2 linked regions of the Homo sapiens genome follow. The protein of the gene in region 1 purifies or fractionates together with the protein of each later gene. This does not show direct contact. Each region holds a gene or a part of one and is shown in the gene's direction. Other genes may lie near its edges.

Region 1 (4,241 bases):
AAATCCTATCAATGGTTTGCCAAGAGTCATGAAAGGAGGAAGAGGAGAAATCACCAAGGCTTCCAGAAGAAAGCAAGGTTGGAGCTGAACCTGAGGCATAGGCAGGATGCTACAGGCAGAGCTGGGGGTCAGAAGCAAAGATCAGAGTGAACCCATGTGGCAAATATTGGTGGAAGAAAACCAGAACAAAGCAGCCCTGAAACCAGCAAGCACAGCCACCAAGATGCCCTCTTCCCCAGGACATTGACAAGTTATAGTAGCATGCACTGGTGCTGGGGGCAGAAAATGTCCATAGACACCAAGTAATGCTATTCTATTTGGCAAATAAAATGATTCATTCCCACCCTCAACCGATAGGACTATGTGGGTGTTTTGTTTTGTTTCTAATAAGAGGCCAATTTCTGAGTGACTTTTGCTTAAGCAAATGTCAAGTTGCTGATAGACCATCCCTTTCGGGGAGGATAGAAACCCGACCCAAAGGCTCCTTTGTCCCTAAAGACCTTTCAATCAGAGGGATGGGGAAGGAGGTTGGGAGCAGCAGGGAGGAAATATCCTAATGCTACTTGTCATTTAGTCCAGAAATTTAGCGACCTGAACCTGGCAGGAAATTATGTATTTTAAGAAAAAAAAAACATGATACACTCATGTTCATAGCAGCATAATTCGCAACAACCAAAAGCACCCCAAATGTCCATCAACGAATGAATGGATAAACCAAATGTGGTATATCCATATACTGGAATATTATTCAGCCTTGAAAAGGAAGAAACTTTGATACATGCTACAACATGGATAAACCTTGACGACAATATGCTAAGTGAAAGAAGCCAGTCACTAAAAGACAAGTGCTGTATGATTCTACTTATATGAGGGACCTAGAGTAGAACAAATTCATAGAGACAGAACAGAAGAGTGAATTCCAGGAACTTGGGTCGGGGGGAGTGGGGAGTTGTTTAATGGGTGGAGCTTCAGGGTTGCAAGTTGAAAAGAGTTCTGGAGATGGGTTGCACAACAATGTGAATTTAATTTAAATCAATTTAATGTGCACACTAATGCATATAACATTACTGAACAGTACTCTAAACATAAGACGGTAAATTTTATGTTATGAATATGTGATCACAGTTAAAAAAAAATATGAGGGAGGTTGTTTTTGAGTAGACAGTTGCTGGAGGAAGGCACGTGAGTTGCAGCCTGACCAGTGCGACCAGTCCTCCTTCAACAGCCCCGCTTGCCTTGAAAAGGCGCCCTTACTCCGCTCAGGGGGCCTGTCCCGCGCGGCTGGCACAGGCGCTCACAATAACCTCCTAAAGCGGTGCCAGCCGCACCTCCGCGCGGCCCCGGCACAAGCAGCCAATGAACACGCGGCTGCGCCCGGCCTCGCGCCTCCATTGGCTGCGCCCCGCCACCCGCTGCCCCGCAGGTTCCCAAGCCGGGTTTAAAGGGGTAGGGCGCGGGCCAGGGCCCCACCATCGTTTCCCCGCGCGCAGGTCCGCGGGGAGGGGCGGCCTGCCGACCGGCCCACCCCAGGGCGTTCCTGAAGGGCGTCCTCGGCCGCCCCCACCGCCTCCCAGATGTACTATGCGGTTTCCCAGGCGCGCGTGAACGCGGTCCCCGGGACCATGCTGCGGCCACAGCGGCCCGGAGACTTGCAGCTCGGGGCCTCCCTCTACGAGCTGGTGGGCTACAGGCAGCCGCCCTCCTCCTCCTCCTCCTCCACCTCCTCCACCTCCTCCACTTCCTCCTCCTCCACGACGGCCCCCCTCCTCCCCAAGGCTGCGCGCGAGAAGCCGGAGGCGCCGGCCGAGCCTCCAGGCCCCGGGCCCGGGTCAGGCGCGCACCCGGGCGGCAGCGCCCGGCCGGACGCCAAGGAGGAGCAGCAGCAGCAGCTGCGGCGCAAGATCAACAGCCGCGAGCGGAAGCGCATGCAGGACCTGAACCTGGCCATGGACGCCCTGCGCGAGGTCATCCTGCCCTACTCAGCGGCGCACTGCCAGGGCGCGCCCGGCCGCAAGCTCTCCAAGATAGCCACGCTGCTGCTCGCCCGCAACTACATCCTACTGCTGGGCAGCTCGCTGCAGGAGCTGCGCCGCGCGCTGGGCGAGGGCGCCGGGCCCGCCGCGCCGCGCCTGCTGCTGGCCGGGCTGCCCCTGCTCGCCGCCGCGCCCGGCTCCGTGCTGCTGGCGCCCGGCGCCGTAGGACCCCCCGACGCGCTGCGCCCCGCCAAGTACCTGTCGCTGGCGCTGGACGAGCCGCCGTGCGGCCAGTTCGCTCTCCCCGGCGGCGGCGCAGGCGGCCCCGGCCTCTGCACCTGCGCCGTGTGCAAGTTCCCGCACCTGGTCCCGGCCAGCCTGGGCCTGGCCGCCGTGCAGGCGCAATTCTCCAAGTGAGGGCGGGCCTGGGCCTGGGGCGCGACCTCGGCCCGGCCTCCCTTCGCTCAGCTTCTCCGCGCCCCTGCTCCCTGCGTCTGGGAGAGCGAGGCCGAGCAAGGAAAGCATTTCGAACCTTCCAGTCCAGAGGAAGGGACTGTCGGGCACCCCCTTCCCCGCCCCCACCCCTGGGACGTTAAAGTGACCAGAGCGGATGTTCGATGGCGCCTCGGGGCAGTTTGGGGTTCTGGGTCGGTTCCAGCGGCTTTAGGCAGAAAGTGCTCGCTCTCACCCAGCACATCTCTCTCCTTGTCCCTGGAGTTGCGCGCTTCGCGGGGCCGATGTAGAACTTAGGGCGCCTTGCCGTGGTTGGCGCGCCCCGGGTGCAGCGAGAGGCCATCCCCGAGCGCTACCTCCCCGGAGCGGAGCACGCCGGCTCCCAGTACTAGGGGCTGCGCTCGAGCAGTGGCGGGGGCGGAGGGGTGGTTCTTTTCCTTCTCCTCCGCCAGAGGCCACGGGCGCCCTTGTTCCCGCCGGCCAGGTCCTATCAAAGGAGGCTGCCGGAACTCAAGAGGCAGAAAAAGACCAGTTAGGCGGTGCAGACGGTCTGGGACGTGGCAGACGGACGGACCCTCGGCGGACAGGTGGTCGGCGTCGGGGTGCGGTGGGTAGGGGCGAGGACAACGCAGGGTGCGCTGGGTTGGGACGTGGGTCCACTTTTGTAGACCAGCTGTTTGGAGAGCTGTATTTAAGACTCGCGTATCCAGTGTTTTGTCGCAGAGAGTTTTCGCTCTTAAATCCTGGGGGTTTCTTAGAAAGCAACTTAGAACTCGAGATTCACCTTTCGTTTCCCTTTCCCCAAAAGTAGCGTAACCAACATTTAAGCTTGCTTAAAAACGAAAACCAACCGCCTTGCATCCAGTGTTCCCGATTTACTAAAATAGGTAACCAGGCGTCTCACAGTCGCCGTCCTGTCAAGAGCGCTAATGAACGTTCTCATTAACACGCAGGAGTACCGGGAGCCCTGAACCGCCCGCTGCTCGGCGGATCCCAGCTGCGGTGGCGACGGCGGGAAGGCGCTTTCCGCTGTTCCTCAGCGGGCCGGGCCCTTGACCAGCGCGGCCCGCAGGTCTTCCTTCTCGCCGTCTTGCAGTTGAAGAGCTACATACGTAGTCAGTTTCGATTTGTTACAGACGTTAACAAATTCCTTTACCCAAGGTTATGCTATGACCTTTCCGCAGTTTACTTTGATTTTCTATGTTTAAGGTTTTGGTTGTTGGTAGTAGCCGAATTTAACTGGCACTTTATTTTACTTCTAACCTTGTTTCCTGACGGTGTACAGAATCAACAAAATAAAACATTTAAAGTCTGATTTTTTACATTTTTTGTCTGATTTGTTTGGTAATAAAAAAGTCCTTGTATCCTAGTGGATTTAGAACCTTGGGGTGAAGGTAGGTAAATGACCGGGGTCCCAGGTTTTAAAATGTGACTTCCTGATTTGTAAAATAATCCAATGAACAGGCAACTGTAGTTCAAGTTCAGGCATTCGTGGGAAATATGAGGATTATAGGTAAGTGGGTGGGTGGGATAGAGAATGGGATAGAGAAGGGAGAGAGGCAATTCCAGGAATTCATTCTTTGCCAAGCTTCAGGCATAGGTCTTTTTTAACTACAACTTCATCCCCTGGAAAATGGGTTAAGCAATACCTTTATCATAAAATTGTAGCTCAACATCCTTCCAGGATATCCACCTTTTCTATATCCTTGGACAGAAGCTTAATACCACACAAGCATGAGCTTCCCGCTGCTGCACCCACCTACCCCTTATCATTTAAATCAGGTTGGAATTGTCTTCACCTAAGAGGTGAAGAAA
Region 2 (3,500 bases), on another chromosome or scaffold:
GAGCAGAAAGAATTTCAAAAAGTGGCCTTTGACTTTGCTGCCCGAGAGATGGCTCCAAATATGGCAGAGTGGGACCAGAAGGTAGGCGTTTTTCTTGTGCTTAGACGTTCTAACAACAGATGTCTCAGGCAGACCTTTATCTTTGTCTCCTGATAATGTAATTGTTAAATGTCTCCTCCACTTACCAACTCTTACTGCAAGTGAGAATACCGGTAGTGGATGATTTTTCCTAGAAGGCATCCTGATCATCTTGTACATAACTTTTTTTTTGTTAGTTGAATAAAGATTTGGATATAAAACTAAGGCAGTTCTATAGATAATAAAAAGAAACTTCTTAATGCCAGAACAAGTTTTTACAGGACCCATGTTAACTGATAACCACTGTAAGATGACAAACAGGCATATTAAGAGAATTCATACGCTGTCGCATGTGCAAGCCTCCTAATCCCTCACTGTGCCCTCTAAAAGGAAGGCCGTCTCTGAATCAGCTGCTGATCACCCTGCTCTCTTTTGTACATAGGAGCTGTTCCCAGTGGATGTGATGCGGAAGGCAGCCCAGCTAGGCTTCGGAGGGGTCTACATACAAACAGATGTGGGCGGGTCTGGGCTGTCACGTCTTGATACCTCTGTCATTTTTGAAGCCTTGGCTACAGGCTGCACCAGCACCACAGCCTATATAAGCATCCACAAGTGAGTGCCCAAGCTTGGAAGGCACAATGAAGTGCTCACTCGGGCTGACTGTGAGAGTTCAGATTCGTAGGAAAAAGATTGATCTTTTGAAGCTGAGTGTCCTCAAGGAACTGGACTTAAAAGTACACTCTAGGGGCCGGGCGCAGTGGCTCGTGCCTGTAATCCCAGCACTTTGGGAGGCCAAGGCAGGCAGATCACGAGGTCAGGAGTTTGAGACCAGCCTGGCCAACGTGGTGAAACCCCGTCCCTGCTAAAAATACAAAAAATTAGCCGGGTGTGGTGGCTGGCGCCTGTAGTCCCAGCTACTCGGGAGGCTGAGGCAGGAGGATGGTGTGAACCCGGGAGGCGGAGCTTGCAGTGAGCCGAGATGGACCACTGCACTCCAGCCTGGGCGACAGAGCGAGACTCCATCTCAAAAAAAATAAATAAATAAAATAAGTACACGCTAGGTCTGTTGCTGCCTGTTGGACTTGATTCTGTCATCCTGTGTATTGCTTAGGGAATCAGGTCAGCCAGCTTTCTCAGAAATCTTATTTTGAGCTGGTACCAGGAGACTTCTCCAATAGAGTGATCAGGGTCCTCTCACCCTTTTATTTATTTATTTATTTTTAAGACAGAGTCTCGCTCTGTTGCCCAGGCTAGGGTGCAGTGGCATGACCTCGGCTCACTGCAACCTCCGTCTCCCCGGTTCAAGTGATTCTCCTGCCTCAGCCTCCTGAGTAGCTGGGATTACAGGCACGTGCCACCACACCTGGCTAATTTTTTTTCATATTTAGTAGAGATGGGGTTTCACCATGTTAGTCAGGCTGGTCTCAAACTCCTGACCTTGTGTTCTGCCTGCCTCGGCCTCCCATAGTGCTGGGATTACAGATGTGAGCCACCGCACCCGGCCCCTCTCACCCTTTTCCTCAATCCAAAGATGGAACTGCCAGTGATTTGAGGAAGTAATAGAAACTACTAATAGAAAGCACATATAACTCTGATTTTTAGAGGCTCGTGTAACCTAACTAGAAGTAGTACAAACGTGCTGGTGAGAAGTACCTCAGCCTGGTTATCTCTGGGTAGTCCTTATTCCAGGAATATGTTTTAATCCACCGTTTGCCTTTAAAGAGTCTTCCCAATTGTGACTCTCCCCTTCCCACTCTTCTGCTTTACTCCACTGCCCTGCCCTTTGTTCTCTTTCCCCTTCTCCCCCATTTTTTTTTCTTTTCCATCTTTATTTCTGTCATTGTCTTTTCTTCTTGGTGTACCTATCAGCATGTGTGCCTGGATGATTGATAGCTTCGGAAATGAGGAACAGAGGCACAAATTTTGCCCACCGCTCTGTACCATGGAGAAGTTTGCTTCCTACTGCCTCACTGAACCAGGTGAATTTGCCACACTGCACTGAGATATAGCAGGGAGAGATGCTTCCTGCTCAGATGGCATTACCGAGCACTCCTTCCAGCCTCTTGACATGTCGAGCCACTGTTTATCTAGCTGTTTGGTTGAGGAGTAATAGAGTCCTGTGACCTGATGTCACAAGGACCAAGAAGCCTATCTGGTGTGTTGGGAGGTAGGCAGTGGCCTGACTGGTATGAGCAGTTTCCACCAAGTACAGAGAGTTCCTTTGGCCACTTGGGTTTTGCAGTGACACACTCTGAGCAGGGTCTGTTTAGAGAAGATTTCCTAGAAGATAGAATTGTGCTGGGCTCCCTCGACCTCACTGACTTTCTCACCTTCTCTCTGCTGCCTTTTGATCCCTCCTCAGGAAGTGGGAGTGATGCTGCCTCTCTTCTGACCTCCGCTAAGAAACAGGGAGATCATTACATCCTCAATGGCTCCAAGGTACTAGCGTGCGTCCTCCCAGAGCACTTTGGAGATTGTTCCCAGCTTCCTCCTGACATCCTCTGGTTCCTTCACATCCGCGGGTTAATACTCCCATAGGATTTTTATGTGTTGGGAAGAGAACCTCTGACCCATTTCTCTTTCTTTATTCTCACTGTTTGTATCTCTCCTAATCTGATTCCAGATCATTTCGTTGACTTTTGTCTATCCTTTTTATACTCTCTTGGACTGCCTCTCTGATCTGCAGTCACTGCAGCGACCTTTTACCTCACCTCAGTCTCTGTGCCATTGGACCTTATTGTCAGTCTCTGTGCCATTGGACCTTATTGTCAGTCTCTGTGCCATTGGACCTTATTGTCAGTCTCTGTGCCATTGGACCTTATTGTCAGTCTCTGTGCCATTGGACCTTATTGTCAGTCTCTGTGCCATTGGACCTTATTGTCAGGAGGACCCAGTGGTGTTCCCAGACGCTGTGAGAACTCAAGCATTCCCTGGTCCTTTTGCACCCCTTTTACCCCCACAGGCCTTCATCAGTGGTGCTGGTGAGTCAGACATCTATGTGGTCATGTGCCGAACAGGAGGACCAGGCCCCAAGGGCATCTCATGCATAGTTGTTGAGAAGGGGACCCCTGGCCTCAGCTTTGGCAAGAAGGAGAAAAAGGTGAGTGGCTGTTGGACAGGAAACAATTCAGGTTATGAGACTCTGCCACCTGCCAGCCCAACTCCTGCTCTATTTCAGAAAACAGGTTTGCATACTTGCTAACCTACCTTTGAAGCAGTTGCTTCTATTAGGATTTTCAACAGGAGCATATGAAATACAACAGGGCATTATTAAACACTAGGCCTCTGGGGAAAGTGACAATGTTTGCCAGTAAATTCTTCAAGCCACCTGTGAGTGTTCTGACCTCTCCTGCCTCTGCTTTTGGCCTGTGTTCCTTATCCAGCTGCTTACGTTGGTGCACTTTGTTGCTCCAGGAAGAGAC

The links. Proteins that work in one complex are often made in the same cells at the same time.
Region 2: the proteins of OLIG1 (region 1) and ACAD8 purify together in Homo sapiens (affinity purification with mass spectrometry; one large-scale study listed by BioGRID and IntAct). This does not show direct contact.

Annotation. Positions count from the first base shown.
Region 1 is NC_000021.9:33,068,673-33,072,913, forward strand, and holds OLIG1 (oligodendrocyte transcription factor 1), read left to right. Parts: upstream 1-1,468; 5' UTR 1,469-1,574; coding exon 1,575-2,390; 3' UTR 2,391-3,741; downstream 3,742-4,241. UniProt on the Homo sapiens protein: Promotes formation and maturation of oligodendrocytes, especially within the brain. Cooperates with OLIG2 to establish the pMN domain of the embryonic neural tube.
Region 2 is NC_000011.10:134,256,568-134,260,067, forward strand, and holds part of ACAD8 (isobutyryl-CoA dehydrogenase, mitochondrial), read left to right. Parts: coding exon 1-81; intron 82-520; coding exon 521-690; intron 691-1,947; coding exon 1,948-2,057; intron 2,058-2,440; coding exon 2,441-2,517; intron 2,518-3,040; coding exon 3,041-3,178; intron 3,179-3,461; coding exon of another isoform or gene 3,462-3,500.